Regions from separate parts of the Homo sapiens genome. Here all the other regions are linked to region 1. The links come from fine-mapping of genetic effects on gene expression. A gene starts in region 1. Each other region holds a variant in brackets. All regions are shown on one strand. Distances are between the middles of the regions. Region 1 holds the start of UTRN (utrophin). Region 2 overlaps UTRN (utrophin). Region 3 overlaps UTRN (utrophin).

What was found. PIP is the estimated chance that this variant, and not a neighbour inherited with it, causes the effect.
Region 2: its variant is fine-mapped to the expression of UTRN in whole blood (TOPMed, PIP above 0.99).
Region 3: its variant is fine-mapped to the expression of UTRN in whole blood (TOPMed, PIP above 0.99).

The regions. Positions count from the first base shown.
Region 1 is chr6:144,281,602-144,289,783 of GRCh38, reverse strand. It overlaps UTRN (utrophin), which reads right to left and starts at 4,449. Exons shown (of 75, transcript NM_007124.3): 1 at 3,963-4,449. It overlaps LOC124901418, which reads right to left and starts at 3,286. Exons shown (of 1, transcript XM_047419641.1): 1 at 1,830-3,286. The coding sequence starts at 3,113. The coding sequence ends at 2,505. RefSeq lists silencers at 4,510-4,609, 4,820-4,879 and an enhancer at 5,010-5,079.
Region 2 is chr6:144,625,524-144,633,705 of GRCh38, reverse strand. All of the region lies in intron 51 of UTRN (utrophin), which reads right to left. Among named protein-coding and RNA genes, the nearest start is that of SNORA98, 220 kb to the right of the region's middle. The variant A/C (reference allele first, on the strand shown) is at 3,426.
Region 3 is chr6:144,346,074-144,354,255 of GRCh38, reverse strand. The region is part of intron 2 of UTRN (utrophin); the gene reads right to left. Among named protein-coding and RNA genes, the nearest start is that of SNORA98, 55 kb to the left of the region's middle. RefSeq lists an enhancer at 4,968-5,077. The variant G/C (reference allele first, on the strand shown) is at 4,483.

The DNA of each region.
Region 1 (8,182 bases):
CCAGCTACTTGGGAGGCTGAGGCAGGAGAATCACTTGAATCCAGGAGGCGGTGGTTACAGTGAGCCGAAATTGTGCTATTACTCTCCAGCCTGGGTGACAAGGGCAAAATTCCATCTCAAAAAAAATAAAGTAAGTGGGAAAACTTGTTAAAGGGCATCTGGGTCTAGGCGAGGTGGCTCACACCTGTAATCCCAGTACTTTGGGAAGCTTAAGCGAGAGGATTACTTGAGCCCAGAAGTTTGAGATCAGCCTAGGCAACATGGTGAGACCTTGTCTCTACTCCATGTAAATAAAAATTTTAAATAATAAAATAAAATAAAATAAAAAGGACATCTGGGTGTTTATTGTGCTATTCTTTCTATTGTAATATTATATGCAGGAAACAAGTGTGGTCTAAACAAGAGTAGATAGAAAGAAATGGGTGAATATGTGGGATATTTAGATATCAAAGAAAGTCAATAGGATTTGGGAATTGATTGGATATGAGAGATTCATATCCAATGTGCAAAATGTGCAAAATGACTCCCCAATTTTGGCTTAGGCAATTAGGTGAAGTGTGAGTCATTGAGCTGGGCAACACTGAGGATAGCAGGCTGGGAGAAAGGAATCATCAATGTGATTTGGATTTGCAGAGCTTGAAATGCCTCTGAGTTATATAAGCGGAGATGACAAAAAGAGAGTTGGGCCCAGCATGGTGGCTCATGCCTGTAATCCCAGCTCTTTGGGAGGCTGAGGCAGGCAGATCACTTGAGGTCCAGAGTTCAAGACCAACCTGGCTAACACTTGAGGTCAAGAGTTTGAGACCAGCCTGGCCAACATGGCGAAACCCTGTCTCTACTAAAAATATAAAAATTAGCCAGGCATGGTGGCAAACACCTGTAATCCCAGCTACTCAGGAGGCTGAGGCAGGGGAATTGATTGAACTCAGGAGGTAAAGGTTGCAGTGGGCCAAGATCGCTGCCACTGCACTCCAGCCTTGACGACCGAGTGGGTGAGACTCCATCTCAAAAAAAAAAAAAAAAAAAAGAGAGAGAGAGAGAGTTGGATATAAAGGATTGGATCATCAATCTGACAGATTTTATGAGAGTCTAAAAAACTTTTTTCATTTTTTATAGGCTCTACTACTGCTAAAAATTTATGGATTATTATATGATTACATTCTTTCATTCAAGTACATAACTATAAAGGATTTGCTAAATTCTTAAGTGTATTTTATTATATTCAAGAATCAAAAACTTTGTTCAGAAGAATGTCTATAAAAGTTTATCATGGAAAATTAAGTTTGCCCAGGGAAAAATTCTCTTTCCTGGAAAGAACTACAGTGTATCACTTTGGAGCAGTAAGTCTAATGCTTTTCTTCACTATTGGTCTTAGCCAAGATCTCCACTTCTATGCTACCCAAAGCCTTTATTCACCCATAAAAGAGAAAAGTCAACTGTTTACACACTACTTTATTCCATTTGCCCATTATCAGTAACACTTCTTCACTATAATGTTTCACTTGCCACTCTCCTCAAGGTGATTTTTCAAATTTTTCTCTTCTTGATAATGAAAATCCCTTACAGGTTGCAAAGATACAGCAGAAAAGGTGATCAGAGTACAGAGGAAAATGGGGAGAAAGAAGAATAACAGAAGGCTATTTAAATAGTGATAGCCACTGAGGTTACTTGCCATTAATGGCCAGAGGAATTTGAGTACACTTAAGGCAAAGGATGACTCCTTCTAATTGCCAAATGCAGAATCTTTGGTTCTCAGGAGACAGAATCAAAGTTTCACCACGAACAATGCATCCCAGTGTGACCCTCCGTCTTCCACACCTATAAAATGGAGGGAACACCATCTTCACAGAAGGCTAGGTGAGAAACTGAGAATCAATGAATGAGATGTTGCTTTAGAAGCTTCAAGCCCTATACAAATGCAATTTATTGTTACCTCTGCCCTAGATTTCCCTTCCCTCAAATGATATTCTGTAAAAGCCAGATGTTCTTACTGAAACCAATCCAGTCAAGTCGATATTCACTAACTCTCCCTTCAGAACGCTTCCGGCTGTCATATGGACCACCAAGCAAGAGTGTATGAAATAAACATAAGGTGTTTAAAAAATAAACATAAGGTGACAGCCTTAAAGACAAAACTAATGTTTCAATTTTTTAAGATTTTAGGAATTATACAATGAATATATGTATATAATTTTTATTTTGTACTATATTTTATGTATATAGCACATATATATCCAACAGTGTGCATTATGATGGAAATGCTGTGTAATGCAAACACTATTCATTAATTTACTATAGGAACCAAAACCTAGGAACGATTGAGATAGTAGAAAAGGAAGCCAAGCGGACAAGAGTTTGCTGCTCTGCTTGAAACACAGTAAAAGAAAACGGTGAGTGCCAAGAACTGCCATTTACACTCGGAAGCGCTCCAGGGAAGGTTAATACTACTGTGATTAATACTGTTTACAGAGCCAATAAATTTTAGGTAAACACCCAAAGGAGAGTTAAAGAGTTGTCTCATCGGTCCCATAAAGGCTGGTAAAAGGGGCGGGGAATGGTTCCACGCCAACCCTGTCCGTCACCGCAGAACTACCCACAAGCTTCGCATTCCTCCACCTCTCCCCTGACCCTGAGCTATCCGCAGGCTGCGTCTCCCACGCCCACCGCCAACGAACCGGGAGGGCCCAGATCGACTTCCTGAGGCCGGTGCAACTTACAAAGGAATGGATGCGGTCGCTGCCGCCCGGCCGGGCGGCCGGGAGGGTCGGCTCAGACCTAGGGAATCCGGCCTCCCCCGAGCTCCGCGCGCTCTGGCCGCGGCGACCGCTGCACTGACCCTCCCAACCGCGGCAGGGGGAACTGGCCCGCAAGGCCCTGGTGATCCGGCTGACCTGAAGGCTGGGAAAGAGGAGGCCCTGTCCTGAACACCTCAGAGAGCGGGGCCGTGGAGTTAGAACCCGAGCTCTGCAGTTCCTTGTAAAATAAAGTGCTGGTCCCACAGCTCTCTCGGAGGTCGGGCAACGTTTTCTCCCTCCTCCTCGAAAAACGCACTGGAATGAGTCCCTTTCATAATCTGAGGCTTGGAGGAAAAAATCCTTTGAACAACCTGCCATCTGAAAGTTGCACAGCCTTCAATTGGTGCTTTGTTGGTTTTTAAGTGGCCTTGAGCAACCACAGCCTCGGACCCCGGGCCAAAGCGGGGCATGAATTACCTTGTCAGTTGCAGCAAGAGATCCCCAGAGTCCGGAAAAGGAGAGCCGGCGACTGCGCGGGACTACACACCAATGGGGCGCCCCCCTCCTCCTGTCCCCTCAGTCTCTCCAGGGCCGCTGCCAGGGAGCTTGGCGATCGCGCCACACTCTCCGGAGCCCCACCCTTGGGAGCAGCAACCACCCAGAGGTCAAGCACGTTCCCCGCCGGGCGGCTGGCTGGGAAGCGCTCCGCTGGCCGCCGACCACACAGCCACCCTCTGCCCACCCTCTCCTGTGGACACCGCCGGAGCCCCGCCTTCCCCGGGCCCGGGTGTCTGTGACAGACTCTCCTAAGAGGCCACGTCCCCTCTTGCAAATCACTGGCCCAGCGCCCTGCACCGCGCGATGCACGGAGGGCGACTCTGTCACCCCGGCGGGGAGGAAGATTAGGGGAGCAGGGAGGCAGCACAGAGCTGGTCAGATAAGTTTGGATCGTTCACAACTAGTACGGATCCCAAGGACCTCCACGCCCGAGCTCTCCACGCCTCCGGCATTCTCTCTCGCACCGCGGGGAGCTAAACTGAGGCCCCGAGGAAAGGGCACGCAAAAGTTACTCCCATCTTCGACTCTGGGACTTGGGAAGCAGCTCGGGACGCCGATCCCAGGCGGAAGAACCACAGAAAGAGCCATCCTCCTCCCGGCCCCCGCCCCATTCCCTCGGGGGCTGTAGTCACATTACCAGCCCGAGGCTTCAATAATGCATGGGCTTACCTGCTGCCCGCGGGCCTCCTCGCCTGCCGGTCGCCACCGCCGCACCCCGAGCTGGCCAAGGGCTCCTCTAGGAGTTTGACACGGAGTAACCGCGGGGGTGTGTGCGAGTGTTAGTTTGGTGGTGCGATGTATTTAAAAAAAAAAATAAAGCTTGGAGAAGCAGACACGAACCGAAATTTTAAAAAAAGAAAGAAAGAAAGAGAAATTGACACCCGACTGAAAACGCCCCTTACTTGTGCAATCTTCCTGCCTGGTAGTTCCGCCAAAAACAAAACAGTCAAAGCGCAAACCTGGAAGGGGCGCGCAGGCACCAACTTTGCCAAACGCTACAGAGTTTTCCGTTTGCAGAAATGACCCAAAAGAAGGGGGGCGCCGCTCCCCGTGATTCCCCAATCGGCTTCTGGAGCCAGAGGCTCCTCCTCGCCCCTCGGCGGGAGAAAGCCCGCGGCCGGCTGCTGCTGCCCGCTTCCCTGCTCCGAGGAAAAACGACTCCACAACTTTGTGCGCGAGAGAGGCTCGCTCCTTCGGCGGCTCCTCCTCCTCCTCCCCGCTGCGGGCCTGCCCCTTTGTTGGAGCCGAGCGCTGGAGGCGGAGGAGGGAGGGTGGGGCGCAGGACCGCTGGGTCGCGCGTTGCCGCCCCCACCCCCCGGGAAGGGGCTCGCCTCCGGGCAGCCAGGGGTCCGCTCTCCAGATGAGAAGGGTGCAGATCAGCGCCAGCCCTCCGGCCCGCGCCTCTGCAGCGCTCCGGCTCCCCCTCGGCGCTCTCGCCCCGCCGCCGCCGGCCCAGCAACTTTGTTCCGGAAGATCAGCCCCACTACGTTCCCGGGTCAGCGTCTGCCGGGCCTCGGCGGTCACCGCGGCCACCGCGTCGGGAACTTGGCGCCCCAAGTCACCTGACTGCGCGCCCCGTCAATCAGCGCCGGCCCTGCGCGCCCTCCCAGCCCGCAGCAGCCCGGCTCGGCGCTTGGCTGGCCTGGGGCGCGCGCTCCAGAGTGAACCGTGCGTGCCGGGAGCCGGGAGTCCGGAGACCGAACCAGAATGGATGCCTCGAGCAGACACAATTCCCCTTATTCAGATTATCCGAAAATGTGAGTCACGTCCCCTTAGGCAAAACAGGTCTCTAGTTAGGGTGATATTTTTTTAAGAGATAAATTCCAATCTGCCTTCCAACTCACCCCATCTCAGTTTGCTGACGTTGCTGATTTTTTTTTTACCCCTAGTTCCAACCGTATATTTATTTTACATTATTTCTCTAGTGTCGTTGTTAATATTGAAAAAGAAGTTTTCTCTTACATTAGTTTGTATTACAAGTAGTGTTTGCGCTGACCTTATTTTTCTGTTTTCCAATATGCACACACAAACGCACATCTGTTATAGAGCCTGTTCCAAGCTTGAGAGGTTGACCAAAAAATATCTGGGAAGAAATGAGCTCGTGATGTGTGTGCATTTTTCTTATTTACACATTTCATTGCTCGTGTGTTCCTGTGATTCTTTTACACGATCAGCACACGTGGGAGGGGAAAGAAAACAGCAACCTGAGTTCCTAGTTCGTATTAACAGAGAAAAGGATGGTTGATACTGGAGCGCCGGTTTATTGCTGGCTTAATATTTGAGTTAATTTACGCGGCAGTAAAGATTAAACCACTAGGGGCCTTAAACTAATTTTCAGAAAGAGTTTACTCGCCTTTTGTTATAGTGAAAGTTTCCCCCATCCATCCCTAAGTGCTCCAGGGAGGGGGCAGGTAGGAGATTCCCAAAAGAGACTCTTCCTTGTAAGGTTTCTAGGACAGTTTCCTTCCTTTTGATGATTTTCTACGTATAAGCCAAATAAAATCCAAAGGATTAACTTGAAATGGGTATGATTTTATTCATTCACTTCATTCATTCATTTAACAAGCATCAGTTTAGGGCTGTCAGGTTTGCTGGTTCTGTGGGTAAAGCAAAGATAAATCTGATAGTGATCTTACCCTTAAAGAACTTGGAATGTAGTAGGTGAGATAAGACATGTAAACAAGTAAGTATATACAAGATCCGGGAGATAAATGCCATAAGAAAAGAACAGATCAAGTGCTAGCTGAGTATGGTCACATAGAGGGACTCCAGGATTTTTTCTTTCTTTCTTTCTTTCTTTTTTTTTTTTTTTTGACAGTGTCTCTCTCAGTTGCCCAGGCTGCAGTGCAGTGGCGCGATCTCGCTCACTGCAAGCTCCGCCTCCTGGGTTCACGCCATTCTCCTGCCTCAGCCTCCCTAGTAGCTGGGACTACAGGCGCCCACCACCACGCCCTGCTAATTTTTTGTATTTTTAGTAGAGACGGGGCCTCCCAAAGTGCTGGGATTACAGGCATGAGCCACCGTGCCCAGCCCCCAGGTTTTTTTTAACTGATCATTTTGCAGACACCAAAAGTTGCTTATCACTCACTGTATCCTGGTTGAGTTGATGAAACTCAGATTTTCTCCTTCAAAATAGATAATAAGGCCACATTGGAGTGTTTGATGATGTTGTCACTTAAATTAATATTTGTGACACTTTTCACAATTTACAAAGTAATACATCATTTTAGCTCAAAAATTTTGAAAAACGCACGTTTAGGGTCCTATGATTTCTGGGATTGTAAGCTGTGAGGAGATGTTTAGTCGAGCTTCCTCAACGCCTGTAAGAGATGGAACAGGAGGCCAACAAGCCACCTTCTGTGCAGGAGTGACCTGCCCCGCATATCAGCCATAGTGGCTTACAGCCAGTTACCTGGGGACCTGTGCCCTATCTGTTTCTAGCCCTTCTCTCCAGGCAGAGACTGATGCTCTTTGTAGGTAATGAGCAAAAGAGGCTAAAGAAATTCTTGTTGACTGGGTGCAGTGGCTCACACCTGTGATCCCAGCACTTTGGGAGGTCGAGACAGGTGGATCATCTGAGGTCAGGAGTTCGAGATCAGCCTGGCCAACATGGAGAAACTCTGTCTCTACTAAAAATACAAAAATTAGCTGGGCGTGGTGGCACATGCCTATAATCCCAGCTACTCAGGAGGCTGAGGCATGAGAATCGCTTAAACCCCGGGGCAGACGTTGCAGTGAGCCAAGATGGCGCTACTACACTCCAGCCTGGGTGACAGAGCAAGACTGTCAGAAAGAAAGAAAGAGAGAAAGAGAGAAATAAAGGAGGGAGGGAGGGAAGGAAGAGGAAGGGAGGGAGGGAGGGCGGAATTCTTGTTGATGGAACGATCAAGAGATCTCAAGCTGGTCCTGTGCTGGTCCTGTCCCCCAACACTTTCTTTATTTGGTAGGGAAACCACATTTGGTGGGCGATCTTGACCACAGAGGGCTATATTTCCATAAAGCACAGTGTGATCTTCCTTTATATCCAGAGAATCTAGGTGAGGCACGGTGGAGACAGGCCTCTAAGGTAATGGGCCTGCAACAAGGATGCTCAGTGGGGTTTTGTCTGCTCATCCCAAAGATCAGATCGCTGTAGAACATCTGGAGAGAATAATAGGAATGTGGCCCTGGGTCTACTGGTAACCCAAAGTCAGAATTGCCCTGCTGTCACCACAGAACTGTGAAAATTAAGGAAAATGGAGTTAGTGTCACTGCAGGATAGAAAGCCTTTGACAAAGGAGAAAATTATGATATGAGTAGTGTATATATAGATTCATATATAAAGATATATGTATATGTGTGTATAGTGTATATAGACATGATTCACATAAATATTATTCCCATACAGGGAACTGCATCCTAATATAAGAACCAAAAGGAAAACATTTGCTACTAAACTTTGTGCAAGACTATATAAATGCAGTTTTTCTTTAAACAGTAGAAACAGGGGAAAATACACAATGTATAAAAAAACAAGACACTCCTTTAGCTTTACCTTTGGTATTGACTATAATTAAAGCCCCACATACAAGCATTTAAGAGAGGAGGAAAGTTTAGGGAATTTAGCCTTTCTTATATTTTTCAGGTAAAAAAAGTATAAATCTGGAGCTTGTGTGTAATAGATACTGGATTTTTGCTGAGTATTGTTGGTAAATTCTTCAGTCAAACGTCTAGTATGTGTGCGAGTTGATAAAATTTTATCATATAAATTTTTGTAATAGAATTGAAGAAACAAAAAATAATAGCACATGAAACTTTTAGAAAATAAATAGTACAAAGGCTGAGTTCCTTACAACTTAATGCACTCAAGAATTACCCAGAGAATATATTTTAAATTCAGATTGATTGCC
Region 2 (8,182 bases), 340 kb before region 1:
TGTAGTGCAGCCCATTAAATGGTACTTAGATTGCTTTTCCTTTTGATGACTACTCTGGTGACTATCTGAAAGAAATTGTGTGTTCACTGAGATAATGTACTCACTACAAAACAATACATCATTCAATGCCACACTTCTGAGGAAAAAATATTTTGTGAACAAAATGGAGAAGCAGGCCGGGCGCGGTGGCTCACGCCTGTAATCCCAGCACTTTGGGAGGCCAAGGCGGGCGGATCACGACGTCAGGAGATCGAGATCATTCTGGCTAAAACGGTGAAACGCCGTCTTTACTAAAAAAAATACAAAATATTAGCCGGGCGTGGTTGCAGGTGCCTGTAGTCCCAGCTACTCAGGAGGCTGAGGCAGGAGAATGGCGTGAACCCGGGAGGCGGAGCTTGCAGTGCGCCGAGATCGCGCCATTGCACTTCAGCCTGGGTGACAGAGCAAGACTCCGTCTCAGGAAAAAAAAAAAAAAAAAGGAGAAGTAGTGAGTTATATTTCAAGTTTCCTTACTCCTTAAGAAATGTACTATCTGACGGAATAGGTAAAATAATTATAAATATATATGTCCAATTTATTTTGTTAAATGCCTCATTGCACATAAGCAATGAAGCACTGGCAAAATACTAAATTATGCCAAATATTATTGGTTGTTTAAAAACATACTTTAAAAAGGTAAAAGTTGGGCCAGGCATGGTGGCTCATGCCTGTAATCCCAGCACTTTGGGAGGCCAAAGCGGGCAGATCACCTGAGGTTGAGAGTTCAAGACCAGCCTGACCAACATGGAGAAACCCTGTCTCTACTAAAAATACAAAATTAGCCAGGCATGGTGGTGCATGCCTATAATCCCAGCTACTTGAGAGAATGAGGCAGGAGAATCGCTTGAACCCGGGAGGCGGAGGTTGCAGTGAGCCAAGATCTTGCCATTGCACTCCAGCCTAGGCAACAAGAGCAAAACTCAGTCTCAAAAAAAAAAAAAAAGTAAAAGTTTACAATATAAAAATAAGTCTATTCTTACACAGTATTTCTAACATTTGTGAAAACAAATCACGGGTATGCTCTTGCTGTTAAGATGTAAAAATTAAATAAGACCGCAGGTATCAGAGAAAGGAGTTTCTGCAGTTCAAGACTGAGGACAATATTTTACAAAATTGTACATCTCTGCTGTCAAGAAAGACAATTTATAAAGGTCTGAGTCATGTTTGCTATTATTTCACTTCTCATATTTCTGAAATTTTCAGGAAAAAAAAGTAGAAAAAAAACTGCACCTCAATCTGTCTGTAAGTTTCTATTACTTACTTCCCAGATCTTCAATTTGAGGAGATGTCCCCCATCTTACTGAGACTCTCCAGCCATATTCACAAACGTTTCTCAGCTTTTGATTTCTTTTTCAGTGTCAGTATATTTATAAAATATATTTTAACACTTGGATACAATTATAGAACAGAATATAGACAATATGAATAACCAAAAACCAAATGTTAAAAAAAGAGGATCCATTTTCATAACTTAGTGCAGTTGAGACTTAAGTTGTTTTCACATAGGATGGAATTAAGAGGAAACTGGGTTTTCTCAGTACAACTTTGGTTCCCTCAAGATCATGTAAAAGCTAGATGGTCCCCACAGAATTCAGAAAGCTTTCGGATATGCATGTTCTAATAAATGTCTTTACATTTTTGATGGACCCTGGCGCTTCCCAGGTCCCTTACAAGCCAAGGTATCTGAAAGACTTTTTCTTAACATCCAAAGGGTAGCAATGTCAGTCTTTTACGATAACTCAGAAAAGGTCAGAATTTCTTCACCATGGAAAATTTAGCCTCCATTCCCTCTAAATTAATTTTCCTTCTTTTTCTTTCTTTCCAGAGCATTAGTATGCCTCAGTGAAGTATGACATTATTGTGTTCCGAATGCCAAGTGGAATAACTTATAAAACTTTTTTTAATAGAAGGAAATAGAAGATAGAGCCCAAAGCCCTCCCAAATATGAAATGTGAAAAGAAGTAAATGAGAGGAGAACCGATCCACAGTAGACAAAATGAAATAAAATATTCTACGCTCTTTTGAAATGATGACAAGCACCTCTCTCAACATCCTTGATTACCTGTTAAGTTACCACAATTTTCCAATACATACGCCAAGCTCTCAGCACTCCCTGCTACTCCTTTCCCTCACAAAACCTTTTCTTCCTTAATTATGTATCCCCACAAATTAGTCATTTTTGGAATTTAAAGAATGATGAGCCAAGAGTACTTTAAGAGCTCTCTAAACTAAAACTTCTTTCCAAACTCCCTCTCTTTCCTCCAATATTTGGAATATAAGCTATACAATAAGATATCCTAAGATCAGCATTGCTGGAGTTGGCCAGGTGAAATTAGTGAATGCCAGACAGGAGGTTACTTAGGAATAGTTCCAAGTCATCTTCAAAAGAATAGTTACACACACACACACACACACACACACACACACACCTCTCTCTCTCACACACACACACTCACTCTCTCTTTCTCTCTCTCTCTCTTTTGGTTTTACCTTCAGCAATGCAACCTCAAAAACTTGTACTCCATCCTCATACTAGAAGGGAATATCACTTAGCAGGTTCAGCTACAGACAAGGACAGAGAAGGATCTTTCCACTGCAACTGATATGACACCCTCTGCTTTGCCTCAACCAAGGTCAGGGGACATGACCGCTAATACCACTGCATGTATGAAGGGAAGGCAAAGCAGGGAAGAGAGAAGAACCAAAACCAAAATAATAAAAGTATCTTCTTTCTTCTTCTTTTTTTTACATGCAGATGAAAAAAAAATCTGAAAAGTCTTCTTGGGGTGGTTATTGTGAAAGAGCAGGGCTGAATGAGGGACAAGGAGGGTGACAGTTGCAGCACAGGACACATAAGCAGATAAATACTGAACTCAAGCCTAATCTTCAGGACTACAAACCGAGGAAACATATTAATGGTATGCAGAGTAACTTAAATATGCATATAACAAACTCTCCAGCTCAATTCTATTCAATAAATATTTATTAATGACCTGTTTTGTATCAGGATGATATGGTTTGGCTCTGTGTCCCCATCCAAATCTCACCTTGAATTGTAATAATCCCCACGTATTGTGGGAGGTAACTGAATCAGGGGGAAAGGTTTTTCCCATGCTGCTCTCATAATAGTGAATAAGTCTCACGAGATCTGATGGTTTTATGAAGGGGAGTTCCCCTCACACACTCTCTGGCCCACCGCCATGCAAGACGTGACTTTGCTCCTCCTTTGCCTTCCACCACGATTGTGAGGCCTCCCCAGCCATGTGGAACTGTGAGTTAATTAAACCTCTTTCCTTTATAAATCACCCAGTGTCAGGTATGTCTTTATTAGCAGGGTGAGAACAGGCTAATACACAGGCCCTCAGCAAAGCATGAAAATTAACAAG[A/C]CTAAGCTCTCCTTTTGAGTGTTAATCCTTCCTATAATATATATGCTTAGTAACTCCCAATCAGAATGCCACTTCATTTTTTATTTATTTTTTGAGATGGAGTCTCGCTCTGTCACCCAGGCTGGAGTGCAGTGGCGAGATCTCGGCTCACTGCAAGCTCCGCCTCCTGGGTTCATGCCATTCTCCTGCCTCAGCCTCCCGAGTAGCTGGGACTACAGGCACCCACCACCACGCCTGGCTAATTTTTTTTTGTATTTTTAGTAGAGATGGGGTTTCACCATGTTAGCCAGGATGGTCTCAATCTCCTGACCTCATGATCCGCCTGCTTCAGCCTCCCAAAGTGCTGGGATTACAGGCGTGAGCCACTACGCCCGGCCAGAATGCCACATTTGAATGCTTTAAAATGTTTTAAACTGTCTTCCATATTCTAGATCTCCATTCTACATTAGCAGGTATGCAATATGCCTAAAATGACACAAATAAATTAAATTACAAAGGAGATGGAATTATCTTTCACATATCTAAATCATGCCATGGCTAAAGCAGAAGCAAAGTTTCAGCTCAGATGAGGAGCACAGTGATTACATGACAACATCTACATTGGAGTTCAAAAGCACCAGGAACAATCCAACAATGCTTAAAGGAATTAGTCTCTAGACTTAAACACTTAGGCATTTAGGATGCAACATCCCTGCTTCCTTGCTGGACATGGAATCACAAGACTCAGAATAGAGGTTACTTTTTGAGAGAAGAAGGGGGATCTGATCAAGGAGGCACAGACAGCTTCTAAGGATCAGCAATAACTTGGAATAGTGATTGTTTTAATTATGATTCTTCATGCTGTCCATGTATGTTTTACATACTTTCCTGTATGTATGCCACACTTTAAAATAAAAGACAATACAGCAAGTATCTCTGGAAGAGCACACAAGAAACTGGCATCGGTGGCTGCCTCTTGCAAGGGCGGTGACAGTCTATGGTCATGATGCGTCATTTAGGACGCAGTACACTAGATTTTTTACTACACATCCTTTTTGCTTTTTTTTTTTAAACTATGTAGCACCTTCTGAAAAATAAGTAAGAGCAAATAAGCAAATATGCTAACACTTTGCTCACGCATGATATTAAGATTCAAGGTAAGCAATGAAGATTTGTATGTCACAGTCAAAGGGAAAGATTTTCAAGAATGTGGATAAGTACTGCTATTGGCCATGCTCAGAATAAAAGAAAATTTCATAAAGAGAGCTACCAATGTAATAATCAATTTTCCATACACAGGGTAATCATTAATCAAATTTAACAGTTGCAGAACCTTATTCCTCCAGCCCAAAGATTTGTCATATTTTACAGGTCCAATGCCACACAGGTTAAATGCCCTGATCAGTTAAACCAGCCCTCAACTCCAGAACCTCCTATCTGCCCGGGCAGTTTAACTCTGTAACAATGACCAATGTATCCCAAAGAGATGAGAGTTGTGAATCGTCAGATCTATCATCCTCAGCCTCAGGGAGCCCCCTGAGGAATCTGAGATTCACCATACTGTAAGAACCCTTAATAGTCACATACCAACCAAAATGGAATCAACAGAATGTTTCTATGCGTTCTTTTGGATGATTCTATTTAGGATATGAGTTAGTAAACCATGAAATCTAGTTCACAGAACAACTCAGAATGAAGGAGCTTTAACTAAAGCATGTCTATTAGAGAAAAAGTCAAGGAAAAGCTGAAAATGTTGGAAGTTCTAAAGAAACACAGTTTAAACAGCTCAGTAGGGCTTCCAAAGAGAAGCATTTCAGTGGAATTCTTGTGGGATAGAAACCAATGGTTTCTGGTGGAAGTTTTAAGCACTGGAGTTCTGCACACATTTCAAAAAAAAGGGGCTAACACCCTCCTCTCAGGAGTACAATAATAAAAGAATACTATATTCATACAGATTTTTCAAAGGAAGTGAACACTGGAACAAGAGCTTTGAGAGGTGAATAAAATATCTGATTAAAACGTCATGTTTATATAGACCCCAAAGAAATGAAAGCAGAGACTAAAACGGATACTTGTACACCAATGTTCATAGCAGCATTATTCACAATAGCCAAGAAGTCAAAACCCAAGTACCCATAGATGATAAAGAGATAAGCAAAATGTGATATATGCATAATAATTAGCCTTAAAAAAGAAGAAAATTGGCCAGGCAAGGTGACTCACGCCTGTAATCCCAGCACTTTGGGAGGCCGAGGCGGGTGGATCACGAGGTCAGGAGTTCGAGACCAGCCTGACCGACATGGTGAAACCCCGTCTCTACTAAAACTACAAAAAATTAGCCGGGAGTGGTGTTGTACACCCATAATCCCAGCTACTCAGGAGGCTGAGGCAGGAGAATCGCTTGAACCCGGGAGACGGACGTTGCAGTAAGCTGAGATCATGCCACTGCACTCTAGCCTGGGTGACAGAGCGAGACTCCACCTCAAAAAAAAAAAAAAAAAAAAACACAGAAGGAAATGCAGAAATGTGCTACAACCTGGATGAACCTTCAGGACATTATGCTAATGAAATAAGCCAGTCACAAAAAGACAAATATTGTATAATTCCACTTGTATAAGGTAAGAGTAGTCAAATTCTCAGGTACAGAAAGTAGAGTGGCCATTACCAGGGATTGGAGGGAAGGAGGAAGTGGGGAATTACTGTTTAATGGGAACAGAGTTTCCGTTTGAGATAATAAAAAAATTCCAGAGATGGCTAATGGTGATAGTTGCACCACTGTAAATGTTTCTAATGCCACTGATTTGTACACTTAAAATGGTTAAAATGCCATATTTTGTATATTTCACCATAGTTTTTAAAAAGATCATATTAACAGAGTTACAAAATAGAGCAATGAATTCAAAGACAGAAAGATAAGGGTTATCAATATTATTAAAAACGCCTCTTATCTGAATCACATGAAGAAACAGAAAGTAAACCGATAAATGAATGTAACAGCTATTACTCCCTTTGACAATGCTTTGGCCTTTACAATGGGAATGACACCATTTAGATGTAATGCCCTTGTGCAAAGCACAACTGTACCCAACATCTTCCTCTTGGAGACAACTCTACCCCCAACCCTACCCCACCCCACCCTCCTATCCCATTCATCCTCCCACTGTGCCATGCTCCTCCCCAGCCCCCTAACCCCCCATCTGCCGCGTAGTGCACACACACACACAGGTAGGGCAAAAGGTTACTGAATGGGGCCTAAAACTAGGTCAGTGTTTTGTTTGTATATATCAAATCTTATTTCTCAATGATCTACAAAGACATAAGATATAAACCAGAGGCTGCAAACTGAAATGCCTAAAAGAGACATGCAGGTAACACAAACGCAGACTGTGATTTGTGTATAAGAAAAGCCACAACACCAGGTGGATCACAAGGTCAAGAGATCGAGACCATTCTGGCCAACACGGTGAAACGCCATCTCTACTAAAAGTACAAAAATTAGGTGGGCGTGGTGGCGCTTGCCTGTAGTCCCAGCTACTCGGGAGGCTGAGACAGGAGAATTGCTTGAACCTGGGAGGCAGAGGTTGCAGCGAGCCGAAATTGTGCCACTGCATCTCTAGCCTGGGCGACAGAGCGAGACTCCGTCTCAAAAGAAAAAAGAAAAGCCACAACACAAACTTGCTACAGAGGCAGCAATCTCAGTGTTGGGGGAAACTGAGTGGCCTGTAGGCAGCTGTGGACATGTGCAAACCCACTGTAACCAAATCTACCGATTTTTCTGCCTTAAAAGAGGAATTATTTCTAACTCATGAAGGTGGAGTAGAATTGGAGAAATGCAGAAAGGCGGGGAGGAAAGCGGATTCACGTTTGAGGTCGGAATGTCATTTGGGTTCTTCTCTAGTCTGGCCCTTGACCAGTTGCGAGAGGGAAACTGATTTAAAGGAGATTGGAGTGATACTTTGTGCCCAGAAAACCTGCAGACGTCTCTGAAAGCCATGCTTGGGATAACAAACTATTTATTACTGACCCTGTGATAAGGAGAGTTTTTCAGATGTTTGTTGAAATAATTTTTGCAGTACCATGGTAAACAAACTGAAAAGGTGAGAGATAATAGACTAGTTTAAAAATGTAAATCAAGATTTGCATGAATTCTTTAAATAAACACCCATCACTGCTTAACATATTTTTAATTAATAACTATACAAGTCCATATTTGCTTTCTTTGAAAGTATGAGGCAATGAAAATAAACTACTGGTCACTGTCAGCCCCTAATTTCTGTGATACAGCTATAGAAATATTGTCTGAAAGAAAACTGTTTGATCGGTCCAGTGTCAACAGAAACTTTTCAGCCAGAAACTGATTTTTTTTCCTTCTTTTCAAGCTTAGAACAAGGCTTTATAAAATCTCCAGTTTTGTTTATGTTTTCAAAACAATTAAACATCATTTGATGTTTCTCAATTATTTTTGTCACATAAAAGGAAGATGAAATATATTCAACTGGCCCCATGAAAGCAAAAACAATCTTAGTAAGGCTGTGCTTTAGGTTTACTTCTGTGGTACAGAAGGTAAAGATTCTAATAAGTAATAGAGGACTAAGGGGCCCTAGGGAAAATATGTAGAGCAAATCAATTCATAAGTATTTGCATTAGCACATTCCTTCATAAATTTGCCAGCTTCTCACTGAACATGGCACCAATTTATCTCAGTCCTCCGGCTTTTCAACCACTTCCTTTGAAAAATCTAAATGAATTCTAATGGTTGTGATTTTAGACCAGTATTC
Region 3 (8,182 bases), 64 kb before region 1:
CCTCTGCAATCAGCCTGTCAACAAGCATATCGTTATTGTCAGGGTGTCAGTTTATAGCAGCATTCACACCCACTGCCTTTCTCATTTACTGCTTTAGATCTAGAAACCGATACCCAAGTGTGAAAACAGTTGCAAAATGAGAATCTAAGGCTCTTCACTGATGTGCCTGCACTGCACAGGTGAGGACACAAGTGTCCATCATCATCTCTGCAAGGCATATGCAGTGGTTCTAGGCTGCCAGTAAGTAGAATCCTTAAGTTTAAAACCAACTTTAAAACATCCCAGCACCTTCACAACAACGACCGCAGCACCCAGCAAACCACAGTTGCTCAATAAATGTTCACTGAGTCATTTATTTTTGGCTCCTTGGTTTTTTTGTTTTTGTTTTTGTGTGTGTTTGTTTGTTTGTTTTAGACAGTCTCGCTCTGTTGCCCAGGCTGGAGTTTAATGGCAGTATCTCAGCTCATTGCAACCTCCGACTCCCAGGTTCAAGCGATTCTCGTCCCTCAGCCTCCCAAGTAGTTGAGATTACAGGCACTCACCACCACACCCAGCTAATTTTTGTATTTTTAGTAGAGACAGGGTTTTGCCATGTTGGCCAGGCTGGTTACTGTTTTCTTATTTCTAATTCCTAGTCATGTGTGGCATAGTTGAAGCTGACAGAAACATGAGCACTGCAGTAATTAGGAAACATAAATAGCCAGGCACAGTGGCTCACGCCTGTTATCCCAGCACTTTGGGAGGCCAAGGCAGAAGGATTACTTGGGCCCAGAAGTTCAAGACCCTAACCTGGGAATAGTGAGACCTTGTTTCTATTTAAAAAAAAAAAAAAAAATCAGAAGGGCCGGGCACGTTGGTTCACGCCTAAAATCCCAGCACTTTGGGAGGCAGAGGCAGGTGGACCACAAGGTCAGGAGATCAAGACGTTCCTGGCTAACACGGTGAAACCCCATCTCTACTAAAAATACAAAAAATTAGCCAGGCATGGTAGCATGCGCCTGTAGTCCCAGCTACTCGGGAGGCTGAGGTAAGGGAATCGCTTGAACCTGGGAAGGGGAGGTTGCAGTGAGCTGAGATCGCACCACTGCACTCCAGCCTGGGCAACAGAGCGAGACTCTTACCCAAATAAAAAAAAAATCCGAAAAATGAGCTGAGCGTGGTGGCACATGCCTGTAATCCCAGCTACTCAGGAGGCTGAGGTGGGAGGACTGCTTGACCCCCGGAGATCGAGGCTACAGTGAACCTAGCTCATGCCATTACACTCTAGCTTGGTTGACAGAGCAAGACCCTGTCTCAAAGAAAAAAAGAAAAAGAAGAAGAAGAAACATAAATAGATGAGAAAATTTAGAAAACTACTGGAAAATCAATGCTGACAGTCTTCCTAACACAAACCCAATATGATAAAAATGATTCATTATAAAACACCAGGCAAATATTATTTACTGAATAACTTCCCAAATTATGGGAAATAAATGTCAATACTTTATTTCAGTAATCAAGACATAGATTTACCTTGAACGACCTTTTATTTTTATTTAGATTTGATTACTCAGAAATGTTGCAGCGTAAGGCCTAGTAACAAATTCAGCAAATATACAGAATGCAATCTCAAGGACTTTTTAAAAGAATAGTGCACACTTCACTTAGTCACCAAATAAATTTTCATCATAAAACATAAGATTCTCCTTGCAACAGCAGGAGAAATGCATAGGAGGGAGGCAGACAGATATGACATGTCCCGTGGGACATGAAAAGGGAAATGAGAACTATTGCCTCAACCAACTTGCAAAATGTCCATAACCTCCCTCTTTAAATACCATCACTATGAAATTTTTAATGCATATAAGCAAAGTGAGAATTTAATAATTATTTTAAAGAATTCACATGGGCAAAGGTAAAATATAATAATTCATTTCAAGGTGTTTATTTCTCCTCTATCCCCAAAAGTCCCTTAAACCACATTCGTACACACACAAAAAAGATTCTACTTTTCCTGCTATAACACTCGTTACTCAGAGTTAGATAATAAATACTGATTAACAATCAGTGGGTCTCAGAGTATTGGCAGATGCTAGATTGCATGGGTGGGTTAGAGTTACCTCAGTAGAAAGTGAATTTGCTAGGGGAATAAATTTCTTCTGTCAAACACAGTCTAGGAGCTACTAACACCAGAAAGAGAGTAATGGCCAATGAGTCCAAGGAGAAGCTAAAGGCACAGAATCCAGAAGTCAACAAGAAAATAGGCCAGGGCAGAAGCCAAGTGACTAACTCTGGCAGCAGGTTCCCAGCAAGAGACTGGCTGAGCCAGGAGAAAAGTAGCAGTGTCGGTGTGATAGGAGTTGCTTCTCAGAGTGCCAAGTGGATCGCTATCTGATGAGGTATTTCTACTGGCGATATGTGCAAGTGACCTGGAAGAATCTGTGCAAGGTGCCTATCTTACAAGTGCCACACAGCCCAGCCTTTCAGAGTATTTGGATCAGCGGCATTCAACTGAAATCTATCACGTTTCCAGACTACTATGACAGTTCACCTCTATTTGGAGAAATAACCTCTCTGCAGACTAAATAAAGCTTTTTATATAAGGCATCAAAGGCAAAGAGCACAGAATCATAGGGGAGGCGGCTGCGTGCCCTTTTCCTTTGCTTGCCTGCTTGCTTGCAAGCAATGAAAACCTTTCTGAACAAATGATAGCAAACTTTGAAAACAGCAAAACATCTGGGGCATCTTGCCACAAAGATATCCTCCACACAACTGCAGGCCATTTGCTGTCCTGTATAGCTCTCTATTTCCTGCCATTTACTGGATCTGTGGTTAAATGAACCCAACATAGAATTACAGCTTCAATGCTTTGATGTGAAAAATCACTAACGAATCTAAATTGAAGGACGAGGACACACTGGTAAATTTTCAATATGATGGTGCATACGGGGCCTCATTTAAACTAATGTCTTATCTTCACTTAGCATCTAAATGTATTTTTTCCTGTACTGACTTGAAATACTCTAACACAAACAGACACCATTTATTATAATCCTTCTTGCAATCTGTCAAGTTATGTTCAAAAAATTTTACAAAGATGTACCTTTAAAGACTGACAACAGCCCCAAAACAGGAGGCAGAATAGTTAGGGCTTAATTTTAAGCCTAACTCCACAGCATCTTTCTGCTAACTCCATGTTCCATAAAATATATAAAAAATGGTTTTTTTCATAAATAAATCTGGGACTTACCATCCATATGGAAATAATTTATCAGTATACGAAAATGTAATAAAATAGTGTATCTAAATAACTACTAGTCTCAGCACAGTTTGGGATGATGACGTCTTCCATATCAGCCAAAAAAAGAAAGAAAATACTATAGAATCTAAGTCCAAAGACTCAAACCTCTGTCCTAGATATCTGAAAATAATATCTATCTTTTAAGGTAGCAGTTAACCATTTTAGAACTCAAAAGAAATTCAAATAAGTCCTCCCAAATCTGCCATTTTGTAGGAATTTCCCTTGGAATCATTAAGAGTATAAAAGTCAGGGATCCAAGCAACAAAAGAAAATGAGCAATGCATGAAAAGCCAAATCACTGACGAATTTGTCCAAAGAGCCAATAAACATATGCAGAGAAGTTCAGTTCCACAAAAAAAGAAATGCAAGTTCAAACAACTATAGACTACATTTCATCTCTCTACATGTCATCTGTTGTAGATGACGATTTAACAGTAAAAGCATATTTGCCCCAGCAATTGCCCAAGTAAGCGAAGATACATGTACACAGGTAGTTTTTAATAATGTTTTAAGTGGGATGCCACTAAATCAGGATGGTTTCAATTTTGGTTCAAAAAAGAAAAGCCATGCTCACCCATAGAGGCATACATTTTTACATTCATAGAAAACAAGGGTAGCAGAAGAAACGAAACTATTAACAATGGTTTTGGAGAGAGGAAGGAAATGACAGTTTTCTACTTTGTAGAATTTTCATTTTGCATTACATTTTTTTTTTTTTTAGAAAACAGTCTGATTACTTAAGATATTTTAAAGGACATTTGAACTATATTACTAAAAATTAAATTTGGAGTCAAAAACGTATTTAAATGCTCCTTTTCCTTGAGAGCAACTCCACACAGAGGGCCACAGGAATTCCTGCCCAGCTCACAATCTAAGTTTCAATACTCTGCAGCTCAGACAGAAAGTTTGGCCTGTGTTCCTTTAGTCCTAGACTAAAATTTCACTTTAGCACAATGGTAGAACCTGGCTATGAGTCATCTTCCTCTGCAAAACAATGAAAGGTCTAGTTCAGTGGGAAAAAACGACTTCAGTTGCCAGTTCATTGAACTGTTCAAATTAAGGTCAAAATACTGGAGCAGGAGCGAGGGAGTCGCTGTGTCCAGATCCTATCTAACCCCACACCAGTCCCCTGAATGGCCCTCCAACCAAGTCTTGAATTTGCAAACGGTTAGAATAGGAAGCACCTGGTGCCCTCTAAGTAG[G/C]GGTCAGAGAACGCAAGTGAAAACATGAAACAGATCCAAATCCAGTTTCATGAGCATGCCTTTCAAGTAATGCCAAGGAAAAATATATCAAAAACATGATGGAGTGCACAGCTTCAGCTTAAATATATTTCAAGTACCATGATGAATATAATGTTTGATTTCCTACCCTAGACTCTACCTAAAAGAGCCCATTATCAACAGACTAGGTTTTTATAATTTTTACAGAATTTATTATTCCATTTATTTACCTGGAACTATTACTATAGCTTGCAAAGAACTTTAAAATGTGTAACATCATGAATCCTGACCACACTCTCCCGGGGCATCCTCCCTGGTTGGGAGATCCTGTGATCCTCCTGGTTGGGAGTCCCCTTCTCAGAGGTTCAGTGACTTACCCTGACGATGGCAGGGGTAATGGAAACCCAGATCTTGAGGGCCAAGTCTCATCCCTTAAAGAACTGCTCAGGGCCAGGCGCCGTGGCTCATGCCTGTAATCCCAGCACTTTGGGAGGCTGAGGCGGGCGGATCACGAGGTCAGGAGATCCAGACCATCCTGGCTAACACGGGGAAACCCCGTCTCTACTAAAAATACAAAAAATTAGCCGGGCGTGATGGCGGGCGCCTGTAGTCCCAGCTACTCGGAAGGCTGAGGCAGGAGAATGGCGTGAACCCGGGAGGAGGAGCTTGCAGTGAGCCGAGATCCCATCACGCGCTCCAGCCTGGGCGACAGAGCGAGACTCCGTCTCAAAACAAAAAAAAAAGAACTGCTCAGTACCATGTTAATCCCATTTCTCATTTTCTCCACCCAAGATTCTTTTCTTTTGTTTTTGTTTTTTTTTGAGATGGAGTTTCGCTCTTGTTGCCCAGGCTAGAGTGCAATGGCGCAACCTCTGCTCACCACAACCTCTGCCTCCTAGGTTCAAGCAATTCTCCTGCCTCAGCCTCCCTAGTAGCTGGGTTTACAGGCATGCGCCACTAGGCCCGGCTCATTTTGTATTTTTAATAGAGACAGGGTTTCTCCATGTTGGTCAGGCTGGTCTTGAACTCCCGACTTCAGGTGATCTGCCCGCCTCGGCCTCCCAAAGTGCTGGGATTACAGGCATGAGCCACCGCACCGGCCGATTCTTTTCTTTCACATGTCGCTCTTTCTACTCTTTTTCTCCCAACTTAACAATTCTCATTCTCTCACCTCTGTAAGTTATAGTTACCTGGTCTTCCTAACCACCTACTCATTTTCTCTATAATTATTAAGATCTGCAAAAAATTCACGAGTCCTAAGATATCTTCCCAGACAAATCTCACTGCCCTGTGATCACTCCAAATTCTGTGTTCCTTTATTTGGATATAGTCAACTGGTGGGTCTGGCAATCCCTAACATATGACAAAGATGACAACGTTCCTTCCTTTCAGCCACCAGCAAACCTAGCATTCACTTCACACACCATCCTTTCCAGGTCCTAACCTCCACGGGGGAAGAATCAAATCACCTTCATTTTTATATCCCCATACCTCCCCAGAGCTGGGCGTGTGCTAGGTACCTAGCAAATGCTGACTGAATAGATGAGTGTGGTCGTCAACCTCCTGGAGTTCCAACACAAAAGACTTGAGCTCCTTTAAGAGTGAGTCACGGCTGGGCATGGTGGCTCAGGCCTGTAATCCCAGCATTTTGGGAGGCCAAGAGGGAGGATCACTCGAGCTCAGGAGTTCAAGACCAGCCTGGGCAACATAGTGAGATCCCATCTCTACAGAAAAACTATTAAAAATTAGCCAGGTATGGGAGCACATACCTATAGTCCCAGCTACTCAGGAGACTGAGGTGGGAGGATCACTTGAGCCTGGGAGGTCAAGGCTACAGTGAGCTAAGACTGTGTCACTGCACTCCAGGCTGGGCAACACAGCGAGACTTAGTCTCAAAAAAAAAAACAAAAAAAAAAAACAAAGAATAAGCCACAGTTCAGGAGATTCTCCCAGGAGTGTCCCCATCTGGCCTCACATCCACATTCACACACACACACTCAGCCCCTGATGAAATTCTCTTTCCCAAAGTTCTCAACCTGCCTTGCCTCATAAGGACACCACTGCCCTGGAGCCTTGTCTCTTCTGAGAGGTCTGTTCAGCATTCCCCCAGATCAGCCACCTGTTCCCCTGTGACCTTTTCCTGGAGTGTCTTCCAAGATGACAGCCACTGTTCAGCCTAACATAGCACACTCTCCTACATCAGCAAAGACCATAACTAAGCCTCTGTCCAATCTTCTTCCAACTTCCTGTTACTCAAAGGAACTAATTCATTCATTCATTCCACAAGCAGCTACTGAGCCTCTTCTGCACATCAGGCACACATTCAGGTGCTAGGAGGCAGCAGTAACAAAGCTGCCTCTACTCCCTCCCATGGAGCTTTCAGTCTAGTGGGGGACGAATACATTCCCCTGTACCCTCCACATTGGACACCCTTGGCTGGCTTTTGACAAGCTACAGAGCAGGGCCTCAGTCCAATCAAGTCACGATCTCTGACTGTGGGGCACAAGCATGTTGGTGATTCTAATGGGGGACCCAAGTAGTGAATCTTTTAACCCTTCCATCTAAAAAGGAAACAGCTGACATAGAGTCCTGTCAGCAGGCAAGAAAGCAGGAAGGATGGCAAAACGAGCAGGGCTCCCAGGAGTGGTTTCCTGAGCAGTGGCAATTTCCAGACATGAGTCATCTGGGCCTTCATAGATGCCTAAATGGCCAGTCCCGCCTCCAAATTATTCATTTCACATTTTCAAGCTTGTTTTGAAACTTTGGTTTATCTCAGTTATATTATTGTTAGCATCTAGTGAAAATGATGATACAGCTGGATAAAGATAGAGATCGATAGATAGATAGATGATAGATAGATAGATAGATAGATAGATAGATGATACATAGATAGACAGAGAGATAGTGATAGAGATAGAGATCTATTTTTTTTTTAAACAGAGTCTCGCCCTGATGCCCGGGCTGAAGTGCAGTGGCGCAATCTCAGCTCACTGCAACCCCCGCCTCCCGGGTTCAAGCGATTCTCTTGCCTCAGCCTCCCAAGTAGCTGGGATTTCAGGCACCCACCACCACACCCAGCTAATTTTTGTATTTTTAGTAGAGACGATGTTTCACCACATTGGCCAGGCTCCTGGCCTGAACTCCTGACCTCAGGTGATCTGCCCGCCTCGGGCTCCCAAAGTGCTGGGATTACAAGCATGAGCCATTGTGCCTGGCTGAAAATATTATTTTTAACATTAAATTTAATGTCCTTATTTCTAACAAGATGACTAAAGAGCCTACACTATGGACACACACAAAAAAATCAGTTCAATAGCAACTGATGAGAGGAGAATCTAGGCCCTTGTGAAATTGGAAATCATGTACACATTGGTTTTCTATTTTTATTAAAATAACATGCACTGAAATACATTTTAATTTTAAAAATGCTATTTTCCTAAAGCCTTTTGATTGGTCATAGGGCAGGAAAGAATGTTATCTAAATGAACCAGAACTCAACCAGCACAGCATTTAAATATATTTAACACTGTAGCTACTCATTTAAAAGCCTGCTTTTTTATTTTATTTTTTTTTTTTTTGAGACAGAGTTTTGCTCTTTCACCCAGGCTGGAGTGCAATGGTGTGATCTTGGCTCACTGCAACCTCCACCTCCCAGGTTCAAGTGATTCTCCTGCCTCAGCCT